4 linked regions of the Homo sapiens genome follow. The protein of the gene in region 4 purifies or fractionates together with the protein of the main gene of each other region. This does not show direct contact. Each region holds a gene or a part of one and is shown on either strand. Other genes may lie near its edges.

Region 1 (3,500 bases), on a different chromosome or scaffold from region 4:
CACATATGTATAAATACTGATAATTTCCACAGTCTTTCATAACTTTTCATTTTTGTTTTGTGAATTCTCTAATGTCCAAAAATATTTTTAAAATAATTTAATGAATGCCATTACCTAGATTCATCAATTGTTTCATTATTGTCATTTTTTATTCTCTCGTTCTCTGTATCACTATTTCAGAGTATCCTATGGATTTCTTCACTTATTTTACTTAATGTTTTAGTAAATAGTGACGTATATACATATACATGATATATGTCATATATATGACATAGGTTTTATAATATATATCATACGTGATGTATATTTTATGTATCTAACTAATTAGAAAACATACACATATGTATGTATTCTGGATGTTAATTCTTTAGAGACTTGTATGAATTCTTGAGAATATATGAAATAATATATCTATATATATTCATATTCATACATATAACTATTGATATATTATTTCACACATATCATATAAATGATAGATTAATTAGGAACATGCCCTCTAACAATCACATGTCCCTGTGTCCACTTGCTTGGCTATATGAATTTCCAGTTCCTTCCAGTAAGAGGTGGTGTGTGTTTCCCCACCCCTTGAGTCTGACCTGTCCTGTAACTTGCATTAGGTGATAGAATTTCCCAGAAGCAATGGTTGGTGTCTCTGAGCCTAGACCTAAAAAGGCTTTGCACATGTCCATTCACTATGCTGGGGTCATGCCCTGTGCTGAGGTGAACCCTGGGCTGGATGGCTGGAGGATAAAGAACTGCATGGGAGAGGGGGGCACTCACACAGATGCCCCAGGGACATCCTGAAGCAGAGCTGCCTCACTGCCCTGAACACACATGAGAGCCCAGCCAGGAACAGAAGGAATGGACTGAGTTTAGGCTGAGCCCAGGCTAATTTTCTAACCATGGAACCTTGAGCTCAATAAATGCTTTTGCATTAAGCCTCTATATTAAGTGGGTTTGTCTTATATCCTAAGGTATTGGTATAAATATGGTCTCCTACACATAAAAATAAAGACACACAACCACCTCGCCAAAAAAAAAGGCAGAGTTAAACAAGCACTTCGCAAAGATAAAATTCTAAGAGAATAAATATAAGGAATTTATACTACATAAACATACAAGAAGAAAAATCCGCCATGAGTTGGAGACTAAAGAACATCTAATCAATGCTTCATTATAAAAAATAAAGAAAAGGACATGGCCCCAGTAGAGGGATATGGATATCACTGACTTAACGCTAACCCAAATCTGTAGTTTTGATCCCATCCTATTACTCTCCACCTCTGTTGCCTCTCCTGTGCTAGAGTAGAAGAAACCCTTATGACGTACACAAAGAGTTCATGCATAGGAAATACAGGGAAATGGAGCTGGCCCAAGGCTGTCCTGAGAGCCTTACAAGAAGCACACGTGTGAAGGACACTGTGCAGGAGACCTGAGGCCCACAGCCCCGCTCCTCACCTGCACGTTCTGTCTGATGCGCTGCTCATTGTAGCTCTTGGCCAGGACCACAACCCCACGCTGCAGCTGGTAGCGCAGGGCAATCAGGGCTGGGGTTCGCTTGTGCTTTTTTGCCAAGGCACAAAGGACTGGGTCCTCCAAGAGCACCGGGGAGTTCGGGTCCACCCTGGAAGGAAAGGCAGAAAGGCTGAGGCCCTGAGGCTGGCGATAGTTTGTTAGGCGGCTCCCTAAACAGACTAAGGCGTCCACTCTGCACCGGAGCTTCTCAAGCGAGGCCCCCGAACAGCAGCCTCAACATCACCTGGGATCTCGTCAGAAATGCAAATTCTTCCCTCACCCCAAGTCAGCTGTGAGTGAACTCCAGGAAACAGCATGATCTGATTAAATTTTTTTTATCAAACCAGTGTTTTAGGTAAACTTCCTGTATCTCTTATTACCATGGTTCTTCTCGATGGGATCCCAGAGCACTATAGGCAACCAGAACAATGTCTTTTGACTTGCAGAAATCCAGCAGTTTTCTCTGGTTGAAGTAAGGATGACATTCCACCTGCAGACGAGCAAGATGGAAAAGCATCAGATAATCCAAAAGTTACATTAATATTAAAATCACCAAAGTAAAAGAAGCTGAATAATGTAGAGCATTAAATTTGAACTGAGAATATTATTGTCAAAAATGATCTTTTTCATAAAAATAAATTTTATGCCCCTCTCTCCTAAGAAAATAGAAATGCTATTTCTGAGCACAAGCAACTCCATGAACCCTATCCTGGTTTCTCAATAACTCCGACCACTAGAAGGAGACACGGCCAATTTCAGAGCTGGGATGAGGTAAGATTCTTTGAGCCTTGGGCATCAAATCGTGCCAGAAATCAAGAATTTGGTCAAAGACTCATGAGGGCAGGTCTGAAAAACAAAAGAACTAGTTTCCTAATTAATACCAAAAATGCATACATATATATGTATGTTTTCTAATTGATCTGACATATATATATCATATATGCCATCTATGATATATATCTATATAGATGAACTAGAAAATATACATATACACATAAATACTGATAATTTTCACAGTCTTTCATTACTTTTCCTTTTTGTATGATGGATTTGTATGTTGATATCTCAAATGTCACCAGTGGGTTCCCTATGAAACAAGTGCTTTTGTCTTTTACACTTGCCCTCATGAGTCTTTGATCACATTCTTCTTTCATATATATTATATATATATAATATATATATATATGCTGAGTAGATGTGAGCATTAAAAAATGAGTAAAATAAATTAAAAATCATAACACAAGAATCCGTGAGTCTGTAGCAATTAGTGCGACAATGAGAAAAAGAACAACAATCTTTGTCTACTCTGATGGTGGTCATTACAGTAATTACGTTCACAGTACATTGCTAATTGAAGGAAGAAGTTTACCTTTACTCTCACTTAGAGGAATAGTAGTTTATTATTTTTACTTGGTGAGAAATTATTTTTAATTAAATGTCAGGTAAGAATAGTTAAACAAGTGGTTAAAATTGTAAATGATTATGTAAAAACCCCAAGGAAATAACAAATAAGAAATAACAAAGAAGAAAACAGAAATGCAGTAGAAAAAAGTTCAAATCACTGATGTATACTCAATCATATGTGAAAATTTGTCATGGGAATATGACTTCTTCTGTTGAGAATTATCCCCCAGCAGATTACTAGTAATTGTTAAAGAGAAAACATGAGTTAAAAACAACAGATCTGACCACTGTTAGCTTAACCAAGTTTTTAAAACTACCTTCACCACTAGTGGGGCATTCTGTGATTGTATGCAGTCTAGTGTCGTGCAATTTGAAAAACACAGCATGATAAAAACATTTTCTTGCCCCAAAGTTTTAAGCCAATGTAATAAAATACTCACATCTAACTTTTAATTTACAGGAACCTTCAACTGGGAAAAACAAGTTAACTGATATCAAATACAACAATATAAAAACAATTGAATTCTGGTTAAAAAAAGAAGAGCTACAAAAGATATTTTGATTAAGCAATGAAAAAT
Region 2 (3,500 bases), on a different chromosome or scaffold from region 4:
GGTTTCCTGGTTTCTTTAGCATTGAGAAGTCATTTCTGCGTCTCGAAGGCCACCCACGTCTTTAAACGGATCCTACCTTGCTGAGCACTTGGCTTCGATCTGCAATGTCTATATATACGGCTTCCACGTGTTTCCACGCCTCAGGCTCCAGCTTATGCACCTGTGGGAACAAGTGGGGAACCACTATGCAGTTTTTGTCAGTTATAAAATATCCTTTAGCCAGAATGGACACCTAGGAACTGCCATTCCCATAGCCACAGATGTAAGATTCCTAATGATAAGTAATTATACAATTACATACAAAATTATCCAAAGAAATGGGAGAATGGATTTTTTTTTTTAAGAGATGGGGTCTCACCGTGTTTCTCAGGCAATGGCTATCCACAGGAGTGATCACAGCACACTCTAGCATGAACTCCTGGGCCGGAGTGATCCTCCTGCCTCAGGCTCCTAGTGATCCTCCTGCCTCAGCCTCCTGCCTGGGACCGAGGGATCCTACTGTCTCAGCCTCCTGCCTAGGCCCGAGTGATCCTCCTGTCTCAGTCTCCTGAGGAGCTGGGCCCGAGTGATCCTCCTGTCACAGCCTCCTGAGGAGCTGGGCCCGAGTGATCCTCCTGTCACAGCCTCCTGAGGAGCTGGGCCCTAGTGATCCTCCTGTCACAGCCTCCTGAGGAGCTGGGCCTGAGTGATCCTCCTCTCTCAGTCTCCTGCCTGGGCCTGAGTGATCCTCCTGTTACAGCCTCCTGAAGAGCTGGGCCCGAGTGATCCTCCCGTCTCAGCCTCCTGAGGAGCTGGGCCCGAGCAATCCTCCTGTCACAGCCTCCTGAGGAGCTGGGCCCGAGTGATCCTCCTGTCTCAGCCTCCTGAGGAGCTGGGCCTGAGTGATCCTCCTGTCTCAGCCTCCTGAGGAGCTGGGACTATAGGTGCACAACACTGAACCCAGCTGGATTGTCTGTTTGTCTGAGATGGAGTCTTGCTGCGACGCCCAGGCTGGAGTGCAATGGCGCGATCTCGGCTCACTGCAAACTCTGCCTCCCGGGTTCAAGCGATTATCCTACCTCAGCTTCCCGAGTATCTGGGATTACAGGCGTGGGCTACCACGCCCAGCTAATTTTTGTATTTTTAGTAGAAACAGGGTTTCACCATGTTGGCCAGGCTGATCTCAAACTACTGACTTCAAGTGTTCCACCCGCCTTGGCCTCCCGCCCAGCCCCCGCTGGATTTTAAGTGACATGACTGAGAACGAATGCTCTGACTATTGAGGGTAAACGTCACTTCTGCAGGTCAAAACGCCTTCCGGATGTTTACGGTGCCCACACCATTTCCATGTGTTCCCGGCTGTACAGACTGTAAACCCTTCTAGAGATGGTGTCTGTTTAGCAACATGCTGACCCGCTGTAAAGACTGTAAACCCTTCTAGAGATGGCGTCTGTTTAGCAACATGCTGATTATTTTGATCAGGCTGTACATGCACATAATACAAAATTATGACACAAATTCAAAATTACAAAAGGATACAATATAGAGTAACTAGAGTAACTCCTCTTCTTGCTTGTCCCTCGTCCCCAGTCTAGTAACAGCCACCTCTAAGAGATCCTACATACAAACATCCATGTGCGTGGATTTTTCTTTTAATATGAAGGGCGGCATGCACACACCTTGTTTCATAACTTCCATCCTTCACTGAACAGTCAACTTGAAGACTGCTCTCTATTGGTTTTTCCATGGCTGCAAGGATGTCACTATTTGGCTGAACCACAATGCATTTAACGTTGTCCTACTAACGGGCCTTTTTTTTCTCTTTTTTTTTTTTTAAGACAGTGTCTCGCTCTGTCACCCAAGTTGGAGTACAGTGGCGTGATCTCGGCTCACTGCAAGCTTCGACTCCCGGGTTCACGCCATTCTCCTGCCTCAGCCTCCTGAGTAGCTGGGACTACAGGTGCCCGCCATGAAGCCTGGCTGTTTTGTATTTTTAGTAGGGACAGGGTTTCACCGTGTTAGCCAGGATGGTCTCGATCTCCTGACCTCGTGATCCGCCTGCCTCGGCCTCCCAAAGTGCTGGGATTACAGGCGTGAGCCACCGCACCCGGTCTAACGGGCTCTTATGTTGTTTTTTTGTTTTTGGAGACAGGGTGTCACTCTGTTGCCCAGGCTGGAGTGTGGTGGTGCAGTCACAGCTCACTGCAGCCTTGACTTCCCAGCCTCAAATGATCCTCCAGCCTCGGCCTCCAGAGTGGCTGGGACCACAGGCACATACCACCATGCCCAGCTAATTCTTTTTTTATTTTTGGTAGAGACAGAGTCTTGTTATGTTGCCCAGGATGGTCTTACATTGTTTTTGATCTTTGGCTACACAAAGAAGACTGCAATGAGTCTCCTTGTATATATGTTATTTCACACATGTGAAAATAACTGTCTAAATTCTTGGGCATGGAAATGCTAAAGGATAGGTGTATTTTATTTTTTGGGAGTTACTGCAAATTGTGCTCTATAGAAAACTGTAATTTTGGTCTTTTAAAGATATAGCTCCCATGTACCAGGAACTGCACCAATCCAAGCAGTACGAGAAGGCCCCATAAAAAGTTCCGGAGATCACATTTTGCAAATCAGAGACATAGCAATCCCATGCTGGTAAGATAGGTCTAGGCAGAGGCCACTGCCTTCCCGGCCAGGCAAAAGAGGACCACAGAGAGGACCCCATGGTAGCCCTGGAGAGGCTACAAGGCAGAGACTCAAGACCTCACCCCTGGGGCTTTTGGGAACTACTACTCACATTCTCCTGCGTGCCAAGATCTGGTTTGTGCCAGGTTTCAATTTTAATCAGAAAGTCTTCTTTCATGTACTCATTCTGGAAGAAGGAAAAAAAATACATGAAAGTCACTAGGTTCACAGTTGAGAGTAACCATCTCCCATTACTGGAGATGGGCATTACTGGATCATGGGCAGCTAGGAGATTCCAGCCTCTGCCTTGTAATAACAGTTAACTTGACTGGGAGCCCACGACACACTAGGCATGTATTATCCCATTCAATCCTCACCCCAGCCTGAGAGCTCTGTAGAATCACCCTCATTTTACAGATGAGGTTCAAAGAGGTTAGGTGACTTAACCAAAGTCACAGAGATCGGGCCAGGCATGGTGGCTCACGCCTGTCATCTCAGCACTTTGGGAGGCCGAGGCGGGCGGATCACTTGAGGTCACAAGATCGAGACCAGTCTGGCCAACAGTGGTGAAACCCGTCTCTACTAAAAATACAAAAATTATCCAGGCATGGTGGCGGGTGCCTGTAATCCCAGCTACTCGGGAGGCTGAGGCAGGAGAATCGCCTGAACCCAGGAGGCAGAAGCTGCAGGGAGCCGAGATTGCACCACTGCACTCCAGTCTAGGAAACAACAGCAAGACTCCGTTTCGAAAAAAAAAAAAAAGTCACAGAGATCACGACAGAGTTGGGTCTCAAAACAGTTTCGTCTGACTTCAGAATCCATGCATTTAGCCACTCTGG
Region 3 (3,500 bases), on a different chromosome or scaffold from region 4:
CACTCTATTAAATCTTGCAACTGCACACTCTTCTGGTCCGTGTTTGTTACGGCTCGAGCTGAGCTTTTGCTTGCTGTCCACCACTGCTGTTTGCCACTGTCACAGACCCACCGCTGACTTCAACCCCTCCAGATCCGGCAGGGTGTCCACTGTGCTCCTGATTCAGCGAGGCGCCCATTGCCGCTCTGGATCCAGCTAGAGGCTTGCCGTTGTTCCTGCACGGCTAAGTGCCCAGGTTCGTCCTAATCCAGCTGAACACTAGTCACTGGGTTCCATGGTTCCTTCTGTGACCCATGGCTTCTAATAGAGCTATATCACTCATCGCATGGCCCAAGGTTCCATTCCTTGGAATCCGTGAGGCCAAGAACCCCAGGTCAGAGAACAAAAGGCTTGCTGCCATCTTGGGAGCAGCCCGCCCCATCTTGGGAGTGGCCTGCCACCATCTTGGGAACTCTAAGAACAAAGACCCGCCGGTAACATTTGGTGGCCCGTACGGCGCTTCTCCAAAGCGGTGAGTAATACTGAACCACTTTCACTTGCTATTCTGTCCTATCCTTCCTTAGAATTGGAGGAAAATAACCGGGCACCCATCAGCCAGTTAAAAACGATTAGCGTGGCTGCTGGACTCAGGTGTGAGGTTTCCTGGGAAAAAGCTTTCTAACAACCCCCAACCCTTCTGTGTTGGGAGCTTTGTTCTGCCTGGAACCAGCTTCTGCTTTCACAATTTTCCTAGGGAAGCCGAGGGTCGGCTAGAGGCAGAAAGCTGTCGTCCTGAACTCCTGGCATTGGCCGGTGGAGATCATTGCACAGCCAGAAGTCTCTACTCAACAGTTGCCCATGTGTGTGCCCCTACCTCTCCTTCTGACCCATATCTCCTGGGTCCTAACCATGACTTTCTTGAAAGTGTAGCCCCAAAATTCTCCTTACCTCTGAATCTACTTCCTCTGATCCCTGCCTCCTAGGTACTAATGCTTCAGACTTTCACTTCCGTTCCCAAGTATTAGAGCAGGTTGTATCTCCAAAGGGATCTAAGGAAGCTCTACGCTGTGTCCTTAAGCACCTAGGCAATGAACCCAGGGAGTCTTGGCCCTGGTGACTCTCCCAATTCAGGCATACAGCTCTCGACATGGGCAGTTATGTGGGACCCGTTCCCCACCACCCTTGCCAGGGCCTTAGAATTGATAACCCAGTACTTTAACAACTGGAACTGGGTCTACAACAACATAATAGATCAGGTTGAAAATGAATTGAGTAAATTAAAGGGAGGCACATATTCCTATAGTGGCAAATGGGGGCAACAAGCGAATGTCCTTCCACTATGTTTCCAAAATCCTTCTACAGAGGCAGAGAGGAGAAAGAGAGAGGCAGAGAGGGAGAGAGAGAGGAAGAAACAGAGACAAAAGATGAGTCAAACAGAGAGAGACAGAAAGTCAAAGAAGAAAGAGAGAAAGAGAAAGATAGAAATAGTAAAGGAAAAACAGTGTGCCCTATTCCTTTAAAAGCCAGGGTAAATTTAAAACCTGTAATTGATAATTGAAGGTCTTCTCCGTGACCCTATAACACTCCAATATTACCTTGTTGTCAATGTAAACAAGGGCATAGCCCAAAACACTGAGACCACTGACAACCCATAGCCTTCCTATCAAAAATTCTTAACTCAGTAACCCGCGAATGGCCCAAATGCATTCAATTGGTAGCGGCAACTGTCTTGCTAACAGAAGAAAGTAGAAAAATAACCTTTAGAGGAAACCTCATTGTGAGCACACCTCACCAGTTCAGAGCTATCCTAAATCAAAAAAAGCAAAAAAGTAGCTTACTAACTCAAAAATCTTAAAGTATGCGGCTATTCTGTTAGAAAAAGGTGATTTAACACTAACCACTGAAAATTCTCTTAACCCAGCAGATTTCCTAACAGGGGATTTCAATCTTAATTACCATACAAAGTCCGATCAGACCTAGGAGGAACTCCCTTCAGGACGACAGATGGTTCCTCCCGGGTGATTGAGAAAAAACCACAATGGGTATTCAGTAATTGATAGGGAGACTCTTGTGGAAGCAGAGTTAGGAGAATTGCCTAATAATTGGTCTGCTCAAACGTGTGAGCTGTTTGCACTCAGCCAAGCCTTAAAGTACTTACAGAATAAAAAAAAAAAAAAAAAAAAAAAAAAACAACTCTATCTCAATACTGAGTCAAAAGTTTACCTACACCCTCTCCAAAACGAATTCGCATAAGAACTGTTGTTTATGGGAATGAATCTGGATGGGGCAGCTGGGTTGTTTGAAGTACTCAGGAATCCAGCCCAGCTCTAGGACTCACCCCTGAGCCAAAGGCAATGTTGGGCATGCTGGTAAAGGACCACTAGAATCCAGCAGCCTGGACCCCTTTCTTTGTGGTCAAGAAAGGCAGGAAAAAGGGTGCAGGACTGCTACACTGGTGAGTGTAACTAATCCGATAAGCAGAGGTCCATGGTTGGTTACACACCCTGGAAAGGAATAAGCATTAACACCATAGAGGACGCTCTAGGACTAAAGCTCATTGGAAAATGACTGGGGATCCTGGCATCCCTATGTTCTTTTTTCAGATGGGAAACATTCCCCCCAAGGCAAAAATGCCCCTAAGATGTATTCTGGAGAATTGGGACCAATTTGACCCTCATACGCTAAGAAAGAAACAACTTATATTCTTCTGCAGTCCCGCCAGGCCACAATATACTCTTCAAGGGGGAGAAACCTGGCCCCCTGAGGGAAGTATATATTATAACATCATCTTACAGCTAGATCTCCTTTGTAGAAAGGAGGGCAAATAGAGTGAAGTGCCATATGTGCAAACTTTCTTTTCATTAAGAGAAAACTCTCAATTATGTAAAAAGTGTAATTTATGCCCTACAGGAAGCCCTCAGAGTCTACCTCCCTGCCCTGGTGTTCTCCCAGCTCCTTCCCCAACTAATAAAGACCCCCCTTCAACCCAAACAGTCCAAAAAGAGATAGACAAAGGGGTAAACAATGAACCCAAGAGTGCCAGTATTACCCGATTACGCCCCCTCCAAGTGGTGGGAGGAGGAGAATTTGGCCCAGTCAGAGTGCATGTACCTTTTTCCCTCTCAGACTTGAAGCAAATTAAAATAGACCTAGGTGAATTCTCAGATAACCTTGATGGCTATATTGATGTTTTACAAGGGTTAGGACAATCCTTTGATCTGACATGGAGAGATATAATGTTACTGCTAAATCAGGCACTAACTCCAAATGAGAGAAGTGCCGCCATAGCTGCAGCCCGAGAGTTTGGTGATCTCTGGCGTCTCAGTCAGTTCAATGATAGGATGACAACAGAGGAAAGAGAATGATTCCCCACAGGCCAGCAGGCAGTTCCCAGTGTAGACCCTCATTGGGACGCAAAATCAGAAGATGGAGATTGGTGCCGCAGACATTTGCTAACTTGCATGCTAGAAGGACTAAGGAAAACTAGGAAGAAGACTTTGAATTATTCAATGATGTCCACT
Region 4 (3,500 bases):
TGCATAGAACTAAAAAGTGTTTTACAATTGGAAGAAAAAAGTTAAGTGCCACCTGAAGGAAAGACTGGCTTCCTACTGTGTATACAGGGACATCATCTTGTAATATTCACTCCTAAGAAAGTTCTACTTATTTGTTAAGCTTAATGCTACTGGTAAGTAGCTGTCACTCAGCACAAGAAAAGCTTTTAATTCAGGCCCTTAAATCCATTTTGTAGTGGTCTCAATTTTTTCCTAAGTGTATTAACTTCTCTATGTTGTATACCTTACAGCTCAGAATTTTCAACAGATGCTATTGGGCATAACAGTGTATAGGTTTCAAGCATGAAACCAAATCTCACAAGAGATTTAAAAGCACTTGAATTTTCTTTCCCAGGTAACCACAACATTTGTTCATTGTATAAATGACTAAGGAAAAAATTGCACCTAACAAGACTCTTATTATACTAAAAGTCAAGCTTATATTTAAAGATGCTGGCTTGTTGTACAGAGGGTATTCTCATTCCCCACAGGGAATAAAATTAGGTCCCCTGGAGAGTAGAATAATTCCCAGAAAGAAAGCACTGGATTATTTCTCTCTAATTTCACCTATTGGCTTTTTAACCAAGTTCACCCTTCCGCATTAAAATATTAAGTCTTTGTAAATGCCTTAAAGATAAAAAGGCCTTTACAGAGTTGAGTGTTTTCTGCAGGTGAGATTTTACATTCTGAATTCCCTCCTCTCAAATTACTTTACAAAGGGGATTAACTGCTCTCTTTATTCAAATACGTTAAGATCAAGCTTGCGAAAAGAGTCCCCTAAGAATTTTCATACTTCTGGGTACGGAAGTCTATAAAGTTAATCTCTGAAACAACATATCAAGCTTACAGGTACAATGTTGAGAGAAGAGTGCCAATTCAGCTCATTTTACCTTCCATTTTCCCTTTTGAACTTTTGACACAATCATGATTATATCTGATTCACTCTAACAGAAAGGGGAGGGGTGAGGGGGAAAAGTACTTTCCCTTCTATGATTAGCTAATAGTTTGATAGTTTATATACTTAAATTTAGAGGACCATGATTAGCTTAAGAAAGTTCCTTTAGTTTTCTTAACTGGTTATGATTTCTCTTTTTGCATGAGGACTGCTTTAGAGTTTAAAGTCACATCAAGAAATTCAAACATCACTTGCCCATTACATATGCAGTGGTTAACTTAGCCTGTTAAACGTCTTCCTCATCATTACAAGGATTTGTAATTCAATGTAACTGATTAAAATAACTAAGTGCAAAATGTGGGTTTTTTTTTTTTGTTGTTGTTGTTGTTTAAGGTACTGAACTATCACTGCTGAAACTCCTGTGATTGGTCACTTTCAATTTATTTAACTTTCATAAAATGATTGAAGGGCGGAGAGGTTTTTTACCTACAGCTTCAGGAGGACTAAACTATTATTTACTGATCATCTATAAAAGGGCACCATGCTAGATAAGGGAGAATCATTATTTATAATGATGAATAAGATGCAGACCTGGCCCTTATGAAACATACACCAATCAAGGTTAGAAAATAAGCATATAAAAAGTTGAATTTCCATGGTTAAAAATACTACAAACTGGCTGGGCATGATGGCTCAAGCCTGTAATCCCTGTACTTTGGAAGGCTGAGGTGGGAGGATCACAGGAGTTTGAGACCAGGCTGGGCAACATGGTGAGACCCCCATCTCTACAAAAAATAAAAAATTAGCTGGGCAGGCTGGGCGTGGTGGCTCATGCCTGTAATCCCAGCACTTTGGGAGGCCAAGGCGGGTGGATCATCTGAGGTCAGGAGTTCGCGACCAGCCTGGACAACATGGTGAAACCCTGTCTCTACTAAAAACACAAAAATTAGCCAGGCATGGTGGCGGGTACCTGTAATCCCAGCTACTCGGGATGCTGAGGCAGAACTGCTTGAACCCGGGAAGCGGAGACTGCAGTGAACCAAGATTGCGCCACTGCACTCCAGCCTGGGCAACAAGAGCGAAACTCTGTTTAAAAAAAAAAAAATTAGCTGGGTATGGTGGCACATGCCTGTAGTGGGAAGATAAGGTGTCAGGATGGCTTCAGCCTTCGAGGCTGAGGCTGCATGAGCTGTGATCACATCACTCACTGTATTTCAGCCTGGGTGACAGAGGGAGACGGTCTCAAAAAAAAGGGGGGCATTTTGGTGAATACATTATCCATTACTCTATTAAATACACATAACTTTTGAATGAACAATTTCAATGGGAATTAATCCTACAAATATTTCCACACATACAAAAATATTTTAGCATTGTAATAGACACAAAAAAAAACCCCAAAAAAGACCAGAAACAATAAATCTTACATTACAAGCTTATATTACACAGCTTTTTACAAAATATAACTCAGCCATAGGTTAATCAGAAAAGCTGTCTAGAATGTATGACATGTAAAAAGTTTCAGGCTGGGTGCGGTGGCTTATGCCTATAATCCCAGCACTTTGGGAGGCTGAGGCGGGTGGATCACTTGAGGTCAGGAGTTCAAGACCAGCCTGGCCAATACAGTGAAACCCCATCTCTACTAAAAATACAAACATTAGCCGGGTGAGGTGGCACGAGCCTGTAATTCCTGCTACTCCGGAGGCTATGGCAGGATAATCGCTTGAACCCGGGAGGCGGAGGTTGCAGTGAGGTGAGATCATGCCACTGCACTCCAGCCTGGGCGACAGAGCGAGACTCCACCTCAAAAAAAAAAAAAAAAAAAAAGTTTCAGAACAGTATATTATATAGCATAATACCATTTGTATAATATGAAAAGCACGGAAGAATTGACAATTGATTTGGCCCGGATTCATTCATTCTTTCCCCTCCTTTTCTTTCCTTTCCTCAGTCTCTCTGCTTCCCCTCCCTCTCCCCCTCCCTCCCTCCCCTTCCTTCCTTTAGAGACAGGGTCTCCCTAAGTTGCTCAGGCTGGTCTTGAACTCCTGGGCTCAAGGGATCCTTCCACCTCAGCCTCCCAAAGTGCTGGAATATGAGGTGTGAGCCACTGCGTACGGCCAGTCAGGACTCTTTTTCGTTTTGTTTGTTTTTGAGACAGAGTTTCGCTCTTGTCGCCCATGCTAGGGTAAAATGGCGCGAGTGCAATGGCCTCAGCCAGGACTCTTTTAACACAGAGCTAGCCATACTATAAGACAGCTGAAAATGGTGAAAATAGTGTGAGCTAAATGCAGAGAAGAAACAAGTACAGTGTATATTTAGTATATAATTCTTGAATATTCTAAAGCATAGGGAATGATGGGAAATAAAACTGAAAAGTTTAAATTGCACTCTAAATATGGGGCTAAGGTGACTACCTGTGAGCATCAGGAGTTAATAAATATGTTTGAATAGAAAAATGATAGCTATGAACAGAAAAAATAGAACAGAGAAGTTACTACAGAAGTAGAAGCCACAGATGAGCTGCATGTAGCATTAAGGTGTAGAATTAAGAACAGATGGCTCTAGTTGATTCCTAGGTTTATCTGCT

What was found.
Region 1: the proteins of SNX3 (region 4) and AKR1C2 fractionate together in Homo sapiens (co-fractionation; one large-scale study listed by BioGRID). This does not show direct contact.
Region 2: the proteins of SNX3 (region 4) and PITPNA fractionate together in Homo sapiens (co-fractionation; one large-scale study listed by BioGRID). This does not show direct contact.
Region 3: the proteins of SNX3 (region 4) and ANO3 purify together in Homo sapiens (affinity purification with mass spectrometry; one large-scale study listed by BioGRID and IntAct). This does not show direct contact.

What each region holds. Positions count from the first base shown.
Region 1 is NC_000010.11:4,993,858-4,997,357, forward strand, and holds part of AKR1C2 (aldo-keto reductase family 1 member C2), read right to left. Parts: exon of another isoform or gene 3,383-3,500; intron 2,290-3,382; exon of another isoform or gene 2,180-2,289; intron 2,009-2,179; coding exon 1,899-2,008; intron 1,811-1,898; exon of another isoform or gene 1,721-1,810; intron 1,628-1,720; coding exon 1,462-1,627; intron 1-1,461. UniProt on the Homo sapiens protein: Cytosolic aldo-keto reductase that catalyzes the NADH and NADPH-dependent reduction of ketosteroids to hydroxysteroids.
Region 2 is NC_000017.11:1,538,793-1,542,292, forward strand, and holds part of PITPNA (phosphatidylinositol transfer protein alpha isoform), read right to left. Parts: intron 2,849-3,500; coding exon 2,774-2,848; intron 161-2,773; coding exon 77-160; intron 1-76. UniProt on the Homo sapiens protein: Catalyzes the transfer of phosphatidylinositol (PI) and phosphatidylcholine (PC) between membranes. Shows a preference for PI and PC containing shorter saturated or monosaturated acyl chains at the sn-1 and sn-2 positions.
Region 3 is NC_000011.10:26,594,130-26,597,629, reverse strand, and holds part of ANO3 (anoctamin-3), read right to left. Parts: intron 512-3,500; exon of another isoform or gene 456-511; intron 1-455. UniProt on the Homo sapiens protein: Has calcium-dependent phospholipid scramblase activity; scrambles phosphatidylcholine and galactosylceramide.
Region 4 is NC_000006.12:108,226,541-108,230,040, forward strand, and holds part of SNX3 (sorting nexin-3), read right to left. Parts: intron 1-3,500. UniProt on the Homo sapiens protein: Phosphoinositide-binding protein required for multivesicular body formation. Specifically binds phosphatidylinositol 3-phosphate (PtdIns(P3)).